Linked DNA regions of Homo sapiens. The protein of the gene in region 4 interacts with the protein of the main gene of each other region in a biochemical or structural test. Each region holds a gene or a part of one and is shown on either strand. Other genes may lie near its edges.

The links. The genes of interacting proteins can lie anywhere in the genome.
Region 1: the proteins of MAP3K7 (region 4) and MUL1 form a complex in vitro, tested with the Homo sapiens proteins (one study listed by BioGRID).
Region 2: the proteins of MAP3K7 (region 4) and NAIP form a complex in vitro, tested with the Homo sapiens proteins (one study listed by BioGRID).
Region 3: the proteins of MAP3K7 (region 4) and SUPT20H form a complex in vitro, tested with the Homo sapiens proteins (one large-scale study listed by BioGRID).

Annotation. Positions count from the first base shown.
Region 1 is NC_000001.11:20,505,352-20,509,367, reverse strand, and holds the start of MUL1 (mitochondrial ubiquitin ligase activator of NFKB 1), read left to right. Parts: upstream 1-1,216; 5' UTR 1,217-1,343; coding exon 1,344-1,463; exon of another isoform or gene 1,464-1,841; coding exon of another isoform or gene 1,842-1,844; intron 1,845-4,016. UniProt on the Homo sapiens protein: Exhibits weak E3 ubiquitin-protein ligase activity. E3 ubiquitin ligases accept ubiquitin from an E2 ubiquitin-conjugating enzyme in the form of a thioester and then directly transfer the ubiquitin to targeted substrates.
Region 2 is NC_000005.10:71,015,340-71,018,839, reverse strand, and holds part of NAIP (baculoviral IAP repeat-containing protein 1), read left to right. Parts: intron 1-3,500. UniProt on the Homo sapiens protein: Anti-apoptotic protein which acts by inhibiting the activities of CASP3, CASP7 and CASP9. Can inhibit the autocleavage of pro-CASP9 and cleavage of pro-CASP3 by CASP9.
Region 3 is NC_000013.11:37,049,689-37,053,188, reverse strand, and holds part of SUPT20H (transcription factor SPT20 homolog), read left to right. Parts: intron 1-1,605; 5' UTR 1,606-1,698; coding exon 1,699-1,701; intron 1,702-3,500. UniProt on the Homo sapiens protein: Required for MAP kinase p38 (MAPK11, MAPK12, MAPK13 and/or MAPK14) activation during gastrulation.
Region 4 is NC_000006.12:90,541,457-90,546,410, forward strand, and holds part of MAP3K7 (mitogen-activated protein kinase kinase kinase 7), read right to left. Parts: intron 3,177-4,954; coding exon 3,096-3,176; intron 1-3,095. UniProt on the Homo sapiens protein: Serine/threonine kinase which acts as an essential component of the MAP kinase signal transduction pathway. Plays an important role in the cascades of cellular responses evoked by changes in the environment.

The DNA of each region.
Region 1 (4,016 bases), on a different chromosome or scaffold from region 4:
ATGTAAACATGAAAATACAAGAATTTAGGCTTGGTGTGGTGACTCACGCCTGTAATCCCAGCACTTTGGGAAGGCAAGTCAGGAGGATCACTTGAGCCCAGGAGTTCCAGACCAGCATGGCCAACATAGTGAGACCTTGACTCTACAAAAAATTTTTTAAAAAATTAGCCGGGGGTGGCATGCATCTTTAGTCCTAACTACTGGGGAGGCTGAGGTGGGAGGATTGCGGGGTGGGAGGCTGCAGGGAGCTATGATTGCACCACTGCACTCCAGCCTGGGCGACAGAGCAAGACCCTGTCTCAAACAAATAAAAAAATTAAAGCATAACCTGTAGGAGATAGCTCAATGAATGCTGATGTTTAGAAGAAAGATTTGGGTTATCTCCGATTATTTTAGAAAGGAGATGCATTACAGAGATCAGGGAACAGTCTCTGAGAAGGATCCCCTGGGTTTTATGGCCATACCTATTGCTTTTAGCTGTATAACCTTGAGCAAGTTACTTACCTGAGCCTCAGTTTCTTTATCGGTAATCTGCATTATAGCTGTGTTGTGAAGGTTCAGTGGGATGGTGCCTGCAAAACCTCCCCCGCCTCGAACCTGACACATAATAGGCACTAAGCGTAGCCGTAATTATTATTTAATAAATATGTTGTTCTATGTGGTGATGGCAGATTAAGGGGCTACTTTGGTGATATAATCTGCCCTCCTGGGGTAGAGTTGAGGGCTTTGGAGTTGGGTGAATTCCTCTCTAGCACTCACTAGACTTCGAGCACATCATTCCCTAACCTCTATGGCCTCACTTTTCTCATCTGTAAAGTGGCCAGAATAAATTCCAAGTCTTGAGAGTTTGCTCTGAAACTTAAACGTATATTACTCATAAGAGTTTAATACACAATTATTTTATTTCCTGCCAATCTAATGGCGAAGACATGGAATAACCCATCAAACAGCCCAGTAACCCCAGGAAACCAGAGGGACGGAAACCAGGGCGATGGGCGAGTCAGTCATGGCCAGTGCGCCGTGTTTCGAAGGGGACGGCCATGGAGCGGTGGGTGGTCGCTCAGCTCCCCAATCGCTCTCCGACACCCGGCTGGGGAGACAGGACCTCCCTGGAGGCCGCAGCAGCTTGATTGTCACCCGGGCAACCCCACCTTCCGGTTCCCTCTACAACCCCTTGCCCCGCTTCCGGTTCCGGCGTCGTGCGTCATCGCTGGGCGACTGATTTCGAGTTTCCGGTCAGGTTAGGCCGGGGGGGTGCGGTCCTGGTCGGAAGGAGGTGGAGAGTCGGGGGTCACCAGGCCTATCCTTGGCGCCACAGTCGGCCACCGGGGCTCGCCGCCGTCATGGAGAGCGGAGGGCGGCCCTCGCTGTGCCAGTTCATCCTCCTGGGCACCACCTCTGTGGTCACCGCCGCCCTGTACTCCGTGTACCGGCAGAAGGCCCGGGTCTCCCAAGAGCTCAAGGTCAGTGCTGGAGCCGGCCTGGCCTCAGCCGGGTCATCTCTGTCCCAGGTGCTGGGGAGCCCATGATTCACCTTGGCCGCCCCACCGTCGGAAACTGTCCAAAAAAGGAAACAGCCTCTGAAGGGTGTCATCCAGCCAGTAGATGGAGGAGCGAGGGGCAGGATTCGGGCTCGGGATAACGGCTGCTCCGCTCCTTTTCTCCCAAGTCCCTCTTATGACTCAGAATGAATCTTGACTTCATTACTTTACTCGAAAAATATTTATTGAACACCTGCGATGCTCCAGGCAGTGAGTCGAACAGATGAAAGTCCATCCCCTCGTGGAGATACCATTTTAGTACGACTAGACAGCAAACATGTAAATCAGGCGGTGTAACAGATGGTGAGCAATGCTTTAGAGTAAGGTAGGGGAGAGAGGACATGGAATGCTGGAGAAAGGGGGATCTCCTATCTTAAATAAGGTGACATTTGAGCAGAGCCTAGGAGGAGATGAGGGGAGTCATGCAGATATCTAGCGGGAGATGGAAGGAACAGCAAGTGCAGACATCCATTTACTGAACCACTCCACTCCTTGCTTTACAGACGCTTCCTTTTTATATTACAACTATTTTTATAAATGGCGCTTTTTTCTGAACTGTGCTTTACGGTTTACACAACACATTTGCATTTATTTTTATTTTTTATTTTTTCGAGATGGAGTCTTGCTGTGTCGCCCAGGCTGGAGTGCAGTGGCGGGATCTGGGCTCACTGCAGCCCCTGCCTCCCGGGTTCAAGTGATTCTCCTGCTTCAGCCTCCCGAGTAGCTGGGATTACCACGCCCAGCTAACTTTTTTGTATTTTAGTAGACACAGGGTTTCACCATGTTGGCCAGGCTGGTCTCCAGCTCCTGACGTCGGGTGATCTCCCCGCCTCGGCTCTCCGAAGCGTTGGGATGTAAAGGCGTGAGCCACTGCGCCCAGCCACATTTTCATCTTGATTTTATTTTTTTCTTAACAATAATTTTTTTTCCTTTCTTTCCTCTCCTTTTCTTTTCTTTTTCTTTTTCTTTTTTTTTTTGAGACGGAGTCTCGCTCTGTTGCCCAGGCTGGAGTGCAATGGCACGATCTTGGCTCACTGCAACCTCTGCCTCCCGCGTTCAAGTGATTTTCCTGCCTCAGCCTCCGGAGTAGCTGGGATTACAGGTACCTGCCACCACGCCTGGCTAATTTTTGTATTTTTAGTAGAGATGGGGTTTTGCCATGTTGGCCAGGCTGGTCTCCAACTCCTGACTTCAGGTGATCCCTCTGTCTCAGCCTCCCAAAGTGCTGGGATTACAGGCGTGAGCCACTGCGCCTGGCCCACAATAATTTTTTGAAGTAAATAAAATGACAGTTACCACCACATTGCAAATCAGAAAATTGAGATTTGGAGGAAAGGCCATACAGCTAGTCAGCTTGAAACTTAAATTTAGGTCTTTTGATTCCAAGGGTAGGATTTTAATCTGATTGACATTGCTTTATTGTGACTATCTGACTGGTCCAGAGAGATGGACCTCTTTAGGTCAGAGACAGGGTCTTATTCATCCATTCTCTTTCCTCTAGCTTCTAACACAGTACTTGGCAAGTGGTAGATGCTCAGTAAATGTTTGTGGGTTCTTTTTGGCTGAAGTTTCACAATACAAGAGCTAAGGGCCTAACCTAATTTGATGTTTATATGAAAGATGGATTCCTAAACCTGACTAACTTAATTATCAGATTGTTTTCAGTAAGGGTTTAGAAACTAATGTGTGGGCCAGGCTACTCCAGCCTGGGTGACAAGAGCAGGACTCCATCTCAGAAAAAAAAGAAACCAATGTGTGAACTCCAGTCCCTGCCATGAAGGGAGTTTTGGAATCTGGAAAGAACCAAGTTATGAGGCAATTGGATTTGCTGTGCAGTGGCGTTATAGTGAGATTCCAGCTGCCCTGTATTTCTCCTGATTAAATAATCAAGTTAATCCTGAAGTGATTAGCTCTGTGTATCTGATACTTCACTTTCTGACTCCAAACCACTTTGGCCTCAAGTTGGCTGGAGGAGGGCTTCTTTGAAGCAGTGAACTCTTTAGGTCTCATCTTTGGGTGACCTTAAAACCTTTGCCAAACAGTTCCTAAATGAGGATGAAATAGCCCCTTCCTGGAAAAAAAGTTGGGACTGTTAATATTTTAGATTCTATTTTCTATTTCCTTCCTCTCTTTCTCCCTCCCTTCCTTCCTTTTCTTTCTCTTTGGCCTTCCTTCCTGTCCTTCATTTCTTTCTTCTTTCTTTTTTTCTTTTTCCTCTTCTTTTTTTTTTTTTTTTTTTTTTTTGAGACATGGTCTTACTCTGTTGCCCAGGCTGGAGTGCAGTGGCACAAACATAGCTCATTGCAGCCTCGAGCTCCCAGGCCCATGCCAGTCTCCTGCCTCAGCCTCCTAAGTAGCTAGGACTACAGGTGCACACCACCACCTCCAGCTAATTTTTTATTTTTCATAGAGATGGGGTCTTGCATGTTGCTCATGCTAGTTTTGCACTGCTGGCCTCAAGCAGCTATCCCACTT
Region 2 (3,500 bases), on a different chromosome or scaffold from region 4:
GAAGTCAGCCAAGAATACAGTTCCCTGGCTGGTTAGGCTGCTTTGGCAAAAATGAAAGTAACTAAAAAAGAGCCTGTGTTGCCAAGTCCACCAATTTCCTTCTGTAAAGGGAAGGAACATGATGCCAAAGAGGAGTTGGGCAGATATTTCTTCTGATGGGAATGTGACCCTCATCGGGTAGATAATCACCAACGAAACTACAGTGGGAGGGCATCAAGAGACAACTGAAACAGGGAACTACACAAGAGTGAAGTTGCCTGTGGACTGACAGAGCTTCCTGCAGAACCACTGCTGGGTTGGATATACATGAATGACAAAGGAGCTCTTTTCCTTGTATTAGGTACTGTCAAATGTACCTTCAAATGAAAGGGTGTGTTTGGTCTTAATTAGCTGAATTCGTTGAAGATCTTCAATTAGCTGCAGCTTTTGCCGGAATGTGTTTAGCTGGGCAAATTCCAAATCGGTTGAGCTGCACAAAGGTGGCAGTACATAAAACATATCTTGTAAAGGGGAACTGCCCAATTCCACCCATAATTGTTAGAAGAAATACTCCCTAGAGGTTACTGAAATGTTGAGAATGCAAACAAACACATTTGGACTGGTTCTGTGATGAAACTAAGGTATCCCTTAATTTTATGTCTTTGACTTAAGTGATGATTGTTGCTGTGATAAGAGGGCCTCTACCTTCGTAGACTTTTTGTATGACCCTACTACTGGGGGAGCAGGATGAAGTGAAAGCCTGTTGAAGACTTACTAGTTCCTTTGCTCCAAATTGTGCTGAATGATGAACAGATTAATATCATTCAAAAGAAAGGAGGCCGGGTGTCCTGGCTTACACCTGTAATCCCAGCACTTTGAGAGGCTGAGGCAAGAGGATTGCTTAAGCCCAGGAATCTGAGGCTGCAGTGAGCTAGAATCATGCCACTGCACTTGTACTACAGCCTTGGCAACAGAGTGAGCCCTTGTCTCCTATAAAAAAAAAAAAAAAAAAAAGGAAAGGGCTGGGCATGGTGGCTCACACCTGTAATCCTAGCACATTGGGAGGCCGAGGCGGGTGGATCACCTGAGGTCAGGAGTTCGAAACCAGCCTGGCCAACATGGTGAAACCCTGTCTCTACTAAAAATAAAAAAATTAGCCGGGCATGGTGGCACATGCCTGTAATCCCAGCTACTCAGGAGGCTGAGGCAGGAGAATTGCTTGAACCTGGGAAGCAGAGGTTGCGGTGAGTCAAAATTTTGCCACTGCACTCCAGCCTGGGTGAACAGAGCAAGACTCCATCTCACTTTGTTGCCCAGGCTGGTTTCAAATTCCTGGGCTCAAGCAATCCTCCCACCTTAGCCTCCCAAAGTGCTGGGATTACAGGTGTGAGCCACTGTGCCCAGTCAAGATTTCTAATGTATCCTAGTCTTGATGAATTAAACAAATAAACCTTTAGGATGATGCAAAAGCAGAATCTACAGTCACTTTAAAGCAGTGTGATGTAAAGAAAAGGGTGGCAGAGTCTCTTGGTGCTATGGGACCCAAGGACATTTACATTGGTGTGGATAAAATGCCCGGAGTGGTGAAAAACTTTATTGTCATTGTTGGACCATGGTGCATAATGTATTGTTATACCTGCTAATAAAAAATTAAACAGCAATTAACTTAGTTTAGTATGACAATACAACTGTAAGTTTAAGAGTGAAAAATGGGCCAGGTGTGGTGGCTCAGGCCTGTAATCCCAGCACTTTAGGAGGCTGAGGTGGGAGGATCACTTGAGCCCAGGGGTTTGAGACCAACTTGGCAACATAGTGAGACCCCCCCCACCAACACCCCCAACACGCTTGTCTCTATAAAAAATGGTGGTGTGCTCCTGTCGTACGAGCTGCTTGGGAAGCTGAGGTGGGAGGATCGCTTCAGCCCTTGAGGTTGAGGCTGCAATGGATGGTGATCAAGCCACTGCACTCCAGCCTAGGTGACAGAGCAAGACCCTGTCTCAAGAAAAAAAAAAAGTGAAAAATGTCCATATAAAAACTTGCACACTAATGTGCACAGCGGTATTATTTATAATAGCCAAAAAGCGTAAACAATCCACACATCCATCAACTGGGTTGAGGAATAAAATATGGTATATGTGATAATAAAGTGTGGTATATCCACATAATGAAATATTATTTGACAATGAAAAGGAATATGAAGTACTAAAACAATACAACATGGATGAATTTCGCTTCCTTTTTTTGTTGTTCTTTTTATTTTATTTTTTAAGCACCTCTACCAACATGAACATTTTGCAAAGTGAAAGCAACCAGACACAAAGGACCACGTACTGTATGATTCAATTTAAATGAAATGTCCCCAGTAGGCAAATCTATAGAGACAGAAAGTAACATAGTAGTTGCCTAGGGCTAGGAGGGTAATGGGGGACATGGAAAGCAACTGCTAATGGGCACAGCGTTTCTTTCTGGGGGGATGAAAATGTTCTAAAATTGATTGTGGTGGTGGTTGTGCATGTTTATGAATATGCTGATATTTATTGAACTGTACATTTTATTTACTTTTTTTAGAGACAGAGCCTCACTCTGTTGTCCAGGCTGGAGTATAGTACTGCAATCATAGCTCCCCGCAGCTTCATATTCCTGGGCTCAAGAGATCCTTCCACCTCAGCCTCCCACGTAGTTAGGACTACAGGCACATGCCACCATGCCCCGCTAAGTTTTCGTTTTCTTAAAAAAAAAGTTTTTTTAGAGACAGGGTCTAGCTATGTTGCCCAGGCTGATCTCAACTCCTGGTCTCAAGCAATCCTCCCGCCTTGGCCTCAAGAGCATTGGGGTTATAGGTATGAGTCACCGCACCCTCAGTTGTTCATTTTAAATGGGTGAATTTTATGATGTGTGAATTATATTTCTTTCTCTTTTTTTGAGATGGAGTTTCACTCTTGTCGCCTAGGCTGGAGTGCAGTGGTGCGATCTCGGCTCACTGCAACCTCTGCCTCGTGGGTTCAAGCAATTCTCCTGCCTCAGCCTCCCGAGTAGCTGAGATTATAGGCATGCGCCACCATGCCCAGCTATTTTTTTTGTATTATTAGTAGAGATGGGGTTTCACCATGTTGGCAAGGCTAGTCTTGAACTCCTGGCCTCAGCCCCCCAAAGTGCTGGGATTATAGGTGTAAGCCACCACAGCCAGCCCCAACTAGCTGGGACTACAAGCACGTGCCACCACACCTGACTAATTTCTTTTTTTTTTTTTTTTTGTATTTTTAGTAGAGATGGGGTTTTGCCATGTTGGCCAGGCTGGTCTCAAACTCCTGACCTCAGGTGATCCACCCACCTCGGCCTCCTAAAGTGCTGAGATTACAGGCATGAGCCACTGCTCCCGATGGATTATATTTCAATATAATTCAATTATGCAATATAATTGCATAATTGTTATCATCTCTCCCTGATATATTATCGGAATGGATGTGACATCTGAATGGGGATGCTGTTGAGGAAAGAGATTTCATGAAATGTACAGTGAG
Region 3 (3,500 bases), on a different chromosome or scaffold from region 4:
TATAATCCTTTGGTATATACCCAGTAATGGGATTGCTGGGTCAAACAGTATTTCTGGTTCTAGATCCTTGAGGAATTGCCACACCGTCTTCCACAATGGTTGAACTAATTTACACTACCACCAACAGTGTAAAAGTGTTCCTGTTTCTCTGCAGCCTCACCAACATCTGTTTCCAGACTTTTTAATGACTGCCATTCTAACTGGTGTGAGATGGTATTTCATTGTGGTTTTGATTTGCATTTCTCTAATGACCAGTGATAATGAGCTTTTTTTCATATGTTGGCCGCATAAATGTCTTCTTTTGAGAAGTGTCCGTTCATATCCTTCACCCACTTTTTGATGGGGTTGTTTTTTTCTTCTAAATTTAAGTTCTTTGTAGATTCTGGGTATTAGACCTTTGTCAGAAGGATAGATTGCAAAAAATTATCGCCCATTCTGTAGGTTGCCTGTTCACTCTGATGATAGTTTCTTTTGCTGAGCAGAAGCTCTTTAGTTTAATTAGATCCCATTTGTCAATTTTGGCTTTTGTTGCAATTGCTTTTGGTGCTTTAGTCATGAAGTCTTTGCCCATGCCTATGTCCTGAATGGTATTGCCTAGGTTTTCTTCTAGGGTTTTTATGGTTTATGGTTTTATGGTTTTATGTTGTAAGTCTTTATTCCATCTTGAGTTAATTTTTGTTAAGGTGTAAGAAAGGGGTCCAATTTCTGTTTTCTGCATGTGGCTAGCCAGTCTTCCCAGGGCCATTTATTAGATAGGGAATCCTCTCCCCATTGCTTGTTTTTGTCAGGTTTGTCAAAGATTAGATGGTTGTAGATGTGTGGTGTTATTTCTGAGGCCTCTGTTCTGTTGGTCTGTATATCTGTTTTGGTACCAGTAGCATGCTGTTTTGGTTACTGTAGCATTGTATAGTTTGAAGTCAGACAGCATGATGCCTCCAGCTTTGTTCTTTTTGCTTAGGATTGTCTTGGCTATACAGGCTCTTTTTTGGTTCCACATGAAATTTAAAGTAGTATTTCCTAGTTTTGTGAAGAAAGTTAATGGTAGCTTGATGGTAATAGCATTGAATCTACGAGTACTTAGGGCAATATGGCCATTTTCACAATATTGATTCTTCCTATCCATGAGCATGGATTTTTTTTCTATTTGTTTGTGTCCTCTCTTATTAATAAGAGGATTTTTTATCAGCAGACATGATTATATCTGTGATTTGTAAAGTGAACTGGATAGTGATCAAGCCCAGTGGGCAAGCTATTAAAATAATTCAAAGGAAAAATGAGAATAGCAACAGTAGTGATAGAGAAGAGATTTTAAAAAATGTATTTTTTTTCTCTCTGGAGATGTTAAGTATTTTTGAGAAAAGGAGTAATAATTGTAACTTGGCAAGTGTGTTTTGCCTTTCCTAGTTGAAACTACTTTTCAGCAGTGAGTGGATAGGTTGTGGTACATGAATTTTATTGTTACTCATTATTAAAAAGTGTCTTAAAAATATGTATGTCTTAAAAATATAAGTAATTTTCCTTGTTAATTATGAAATATGTAATCTCTTTTTTTTTCTCTTAATAGCCTTATGTTAATATTGGGGTTTTATTGTTTTTGCTTTTCAGTACTGTAAGATTGATGTTAAAGGCATGGTGTTCACCCCACTTCATCAGCGTACATAAGTTATCTCTTCTTTTGGACCCTTATTTTATGCCATAATGGTAAGCTTCAGCTCAGTATGTTCAAATTTGTGTTTTAGAATGTTCTCTTCCTTCATCTTCATAAAGATATTTGTATGGTAGATATAGAAATACTCTTGTAAGCTGTACAGGTTATCCCAACTGGGAAATTACTTAGCAATCCCATTGCAAAGTCTTCTCTATAAAGTATATTGCTCACTAATCAGTGTTACAGTGATCACATTCATCCATCTATCTGTGCTTGTATTTATGAAGTATTAAAAATATTTACCTATATCTACTTTGCCATATTCCAAATCGTTGGCAAGGAGGATGGGTATAAATACAAATAGTTTTGGGGAGTATAGATTTCTCGTATTTTAAAGCTTTTCTTTAGATTTTATTAAAATTTAAAAACAAATGTAACCTGCTAACTGCATATAACGTATTTCAGGCAGCATCAGTGCTAATCTTCTAATGGCACATTTCTGTTCACTGACTTACAGTCACTAAACATAGTTAGGAGTAGGCATTTAACTTTTGCCATTAAGAAATGACAGACTAAGGGAGAAAAACACTTTTTAATGTTTTAAAGAAGCAGCAGCATTTGACAGAGAATAAATGAACATTGACCACCATGTTATTTATTTAGATAACCCCTATTCTGCGTCACAAACTTCAGAAAACATCTGTCTTCCTTCTCCTCTTGGTTCTTGCCTATCTACTCCTCCCCTATTAGAGAAAAGTAGAAGTATCACAGTGGGGTTCTGACAACACCTTGTATTTTGCATCTATATTACCTAATCATTTTCCTCTTAAGTTTTTGAAGGAGATAATGAATGAATGATGCTTTTATTTATGTATGTATGCATGTCTCACTAGACCCTTTGAAGTTTTAATTTCAGAAGATGAAATATTTACTTGAGATGACTGGCTGTTTAAAATTGTCCTAGACTATATATATTTGATTTTGTTTATTATAATTTTTTGATACAAACAAATTTTATGGGCAAAATTTAAAAGAACCTTCTGTATTTGTGAAGTGTATATGTACAGAATTATGTTTTCATGGTGGAACATGGGATCAGGGAAAATGGGAGTCAGGAATCTTAACTTGAATCCTGGGAACCAGTTTCATTGGGAATCCGCTTCTTATAAGTTTTTTTTTTTTTTTTTTTTTTTGGTAGTGACAGAATCTCACTATATTGTCCAGGCTGGTCTTGAACTCCTGATTTCCCACCTTGGCCTCCCAAAGCTTTGGAATTACAGGCATGTGCCACAGTGCCTGGCCAAGATTTTTTAACAAAGCAAATTAGTGTAGATTTATTATAACTGAACGTTTTGAAAAGATGGCAGATTTCAGACTTTGTTCACTTATCATATTTAGATATTTGATAATGTGGGTTTTTTATTGAACAGTGCAAGAAGGCCCACTATTTTTGGAATTATACAAATTCTCCATCCTTAGGACTAGGTGGTCACTTAAAAGTTCCCATGATTTCCAAAGGGTGGCAGTATTTGTTTTTCCCCCTTACCCTCCTGGGACTTTGGTGGGTGGTAGGAGTTTTTACCCACATGCAATTTGGTAGGTTGAGGTATTGGAATCTGCAAAATAAGACAGAAGAATTTAAGTCCTTTTAAATAAAAACTGAAAGTTCTGTGCCTCTTAATAAAATTTAAAAATGACTATCATTATGAATGAAAAAGACTATAAAACAGAAAACTAGAAAGAAAACCACTGGTGGTATATTTGGGTTTTGTTTTATTTGTTTGTTGTTTTTGTTTTTTTTGAGATGGAGTTTTGCCCTTTTTGCCCAGACTGTAGTACAATAGCACGATCT
Region 4 (4,954 bases):
GCTCTTAGCTGCGTGTCTTCCTTGGTAAAAAGGAGCCAGGCTAATCTATAAAGCTCACTCTTTTAAGGGCAGATGGACAGTGGAAAGAAGGAAGGGTTACCGTACAAAAGTTTGTCAGTTCTTCAGAGCCAGTAATATGGTAGAAGAGGTATAAAAAATTGTACAGTCTGACCCACAGGGAGTCCTAAGGTATTAAAGGTTAATTTCTGTATGATCTGAGAGACTACTAAATTGATAAATAGTGCTGTTTTGCTAAGTTGCTTTTTCTTCCACATTTGACTGATGGCATAGTATACACATTTTGAAGAGCGAGCAAAAAACAAGATTACAAGATTAGGGTCTTTGCATTTCTTTACCTATGACTAGGTTAGACATTTTAGTGACTTTAAAGATATATATACAAAACCTTTTTTGTGATGCTTGAAGGATTGCTCTTATTAAGAGAGGTAGTTCATTCCAAGAAGTACATTAGACTCAGTACATTGCACTTGGCCAAAGGGAAGTATTAACGAAACTCTTATCCATGTAAATAAGATCTTTAAAAAGCTATATTTAAAAAGAATCCTTGCAATTGGGTTTTAATGCTAATTAAACAGTTTGAATATATCAAGAAGTATTTGCTAATACCATAAAGCTTGTGGGAAATCCACTTAGAACAAAACAATTTCTAGAAAGTATTAAGAAATTTTGGAAATTAAGTATCACCCTTCTTTACAATTAAAATGTCATGTAGGAAATTTGAGATATTCCCAAAGGATGGGCGGTATTTTTATATTTAATTTAAAAACATTACCTATGAGCACATTCATGATTGGCTTTTATGTCCACTAGTGTCAATTCTACAGCTTGTATTCTTCTATTAAAGAAAGTGCACCTGAGTAAGTTAATGTTTGATATCTGAGGGGGGAAAAGCCTAAAAAGAATATTTAATAAAAGGTATTACTGAATAATATTTTCATATGAATAGCACTGCTGCTCTGGCAATTAAGAGAATTAAGGTTACCTGATTCCATAAAGGCCCAATGTCATAAAAGAGGATCTCCCTGGCTGAAGAGCTCTCCTTAATGTGAACACTAAGAGAAAGCAAGAAGAAATTACTCTAGCTTCTCTGACTTAAACAAAAGAACAAAAAATGGATGTGACTTGGAGTCAGAAGATCTGGGTTGGGGTCCTGGCTATATGATTCTGGAAAAACCACTAAACATCATCAGATCTAAGTTCTTCGTCTGTTAAACAGCTATAATTTCATCCGATAACCTAGTTGTAAGATTGTATAAAGGTAAAATAAGATGTACTTTAAGCTACTTTGTAGGGCACAAAGAACATCTAATCAGGGGTTTTCAGCCTCAGCACTGCTGCCATTTTGGGCTGGATCATTCTTTGTTGGAGAAGACTGCCTGGTACACATCAGGATGTTTAGCAGCATCCCTGGTCTCTGCCCACTAGATGCCAGTAGTACCTGACAGTTATAAACTATTATTCTTTCCTTATTTTTCCCTCCCCCATTATCTTGTATAGCGTGGGCTACGCTGCCATATATAAATTTATTCTTAATGCTTAGTCATAAGATTACACTGCCATCTGTCTAAATTTTCCTGATTCCCTCAAACATTTAAGGGAAGCACAGTTCAGCGGTATGTAAGTTTAAATGCTTCCACCTCTTTAAAGTACGTCCCTTATACACAGTACCTTTCCGCATGGAGGTAAACTGATCTCCATGTAAAATGATCTCTTTGTTAATTTCTGAAGCAGTCCAGATTCAATAAATAAAAATTACCATGTGAAAAATGGGTTAACTCTACTCTTTGAATAGCAATAGTAATGATGTTGTAAAATAAGAAACCACTTTGATAACCAGGGGAAAATTAATATAAGATAGTTTTATACAGACAAAATGGCACCTAAGAATAGTATAATTCATATTTTTGTATGCTAGTTTCTCACCAGGGGAGATGCTCAATAGGTCTGTTCATTTATTTAATAAATGTATTTATTAAACACTATGTTAATATGCTTAATATGTGAAGCACTGAGCCAGCAACTGCTGATACAATCAATAATAAGCAACAACAACAAAATAATGCACAAAGATATGGATTCTATCCTTACATAGTTTTCAGTTTAGTAGAGGAGAAAATAACCATTAGGTATTCAACTAGAATTATCAACACTGCTAAAAACACAATCACAGGCAAAGGACAGCATGCTGAAGAATTCATCCAACTCGCACTCATGAACGTGTGTGGAAAATATGTATTTCCTTATCAAGATTTTGGGTAAAGAGGTAGAGAAAAGCCTAAAGGGATAAATAAATGATAATTTTGATAATACATTAATCAATACTGAAGGTCAATATGCCATTTAAGTTTCTATTAAAAATGGTAACATATTCCTCTATGAAATGATCACCATAAGAAATAAAGCAGTTTACCAATTTTAGACACTAAAGTACCATGTGTAAGTTAGGTATAAAAACATGTAATTTATGAGATTCTCCTGATAATACACAAAAATCAGAATTGACCAACTATTTTACATGATTCTTTGGCAAGATACCCTGCAAAACAGCACATCTCATTTAGCTTTACTTTTTGTTTTCCAGGTTAAGGCAAAATGCTATTTAGCAACTCTCTTCTCTCAACTTCACATTCACTTGCTACCAACAGAAAGAGGTTAGGACAGAAAGTCTAGAGGGGACCCAAAAAGCAGTAACTGAGGAAGGAAAGGAGCCAAGGAAAATAACAAATTTTAATTAGTTGTTTCCTCTTTCTGTTGGGTGCAAAAAAGGTCTGGGTTTAGCTCATGTGCTCACTTAAAAGTAGAGAGGAAGTTGGTAGAATTCTGGGTTGGTGTTCTCCCTTCTCCAAAAAGGTTTACTTTCTCTTCTATTTTATCCTCACTTATTGTAGATCAGAGGTATCTTTTCAAGACTGCTTCAGAATAAATGTAGTTTTTCAATCTGTCTCCCTAATTACTGCATGCAAGGTATCCATTTTCATGTCTTGTAAAAATTGGAGCAAGAAGCATTTTACAAGTACCAGGGATCATTATTCCGGTTCCACAGCTATTAGACCAACTCAGGTGGTCTATGATACCTGATATGACGATCTCAGGGACATCCAGAATGTTGCCAAATGAAGCAGTTTTACGGTGGCCCCGTTTAGGCTTGGAATAGGCTGCAAAAACACATATATACAGTATACATGCAAACAACCACAAACAGTAACACGGAAAATGATTAACTACAAAAATAGACTCATTTTCAAATAGTTCATGTTAATAACATTTCATGCAGAATGGCATGCAGAACTACCTAACTTTTCATCCATGCTCAGAAAAGGCGAGATTAAAGAGCAAACAACTACCAAATACAAGATGTTTTACACACTGGTTTTAATTAGCAGAAAAAAATAAAAAGAACAGAGACAAAGCTGCAGGGTAATGAGGAAGCAAAATTTCAAATATATTCATAGAAACAGTCTACCTAAGTGAAATCACTGATCTGTGATGGGGGTGGGGGAACGAAGGAGGAGAGGAAGAAAGGCGTTAAAAAGTAAGTTGTCGTATTTGTTTTAATTACACAAACACAGGAATACATGTTCAAGTTAGGTGTTTCTTGAAGTGTGCTATAAAGTAAAATCCAATGATTAAATAATAATTATTGAATCAAAGTGTGAAATGTATATGCTTTTGTAGTCATACTTATACATATTTCTAGTACCAAATATTTATTATATTTTCCAAAGTTTAGGGTACATTCACAGTAAACACAAAGTCTGTCAAAAGGCTGGAAAGTATGACTCTTTCCAAGTAAGACAATTCATGAAAAAATTTAAATTGTGTAAAACTCAAGGGATGTACAATAGCATTTGTTCTACACTTAGGCAAAATTTTAATGTGTGTGGTTATCCTTCTAGCAAAGTCATTTCTGTAAATAATAATAAAAAACCAGTGCTTGACTAGAAATATGATACTAGCGAAGACATGAAACCATTATTATAACAATTTTCAGTTTTGAGACAGCAATTAGTATGTGGCAGATCTATCCTGAACAACATCCCTGAAGTGAAAAGGGTTCCTCAAAGCATGAGGGTATGTCCCGGTGAGTAGGGTTCATCTGACACTACAGTGAGACAACCCTGCTCCAAAGAAATACTTGTGACTCATGGAGACTCATGGGCTTGTCAGTGGCTGGTGACTTCTACTCAACTTGATAGTTTCTGAAGACCCATCTGTGGCAGACACAGCTATCTTCTGCCAGTTTCCACTCTTCCCTTCTGTTTTAGCAATAGTACTCTGATTTTATTTAGGACAGAAAAGTCATCAGATAAAAGAGGGCAGATCTCCTCTTCCCTTGGAGCTACGTGTAGCCATTCGACCATGTTACTTTGACCAATGATGTGTGGATGTTGTTAAGAGAGGCATCTGGGAATGTTCCTTCAAAGAACTTGGATGTCTATTTGCCCTGCCCCCATGTCTTCCTTCCTATTGCCTGGAATGTAGAAGTGATGAAATGGAACTTCAACAGCCATTTTGGAGCACAGGATAACTTTGAGAATGGAAGCTATACAGTAGGGATTACAGCACAGAAATAGGAGACCAGTTACTTCAAGATCACAGAGCCCACTACCTCCAGACTTGTTTATATGTGAAAAATAATGCTTATGTGTTATAGACACTGTTATTTCGGATATTCTGTTATATCTAATGGATTCTAATAGTAGCTGATAAAATCAATGATCATGATTAGTTGAAGACAAGTATAGTATGATGGTCCATCTTGACAACTTCTTTCTGAAAAGAGCTCCACACACAATGAGAATATTCTATTTAGAAAAAAACCAAATAAGTGAAAAAAAGACCTAAAAAATTGGTTAGCTAAGTTAAAAAAGATGCAAATACACATGAATATATACATTTATACACATACATAGTTAAAAGATGGGGTAAATAC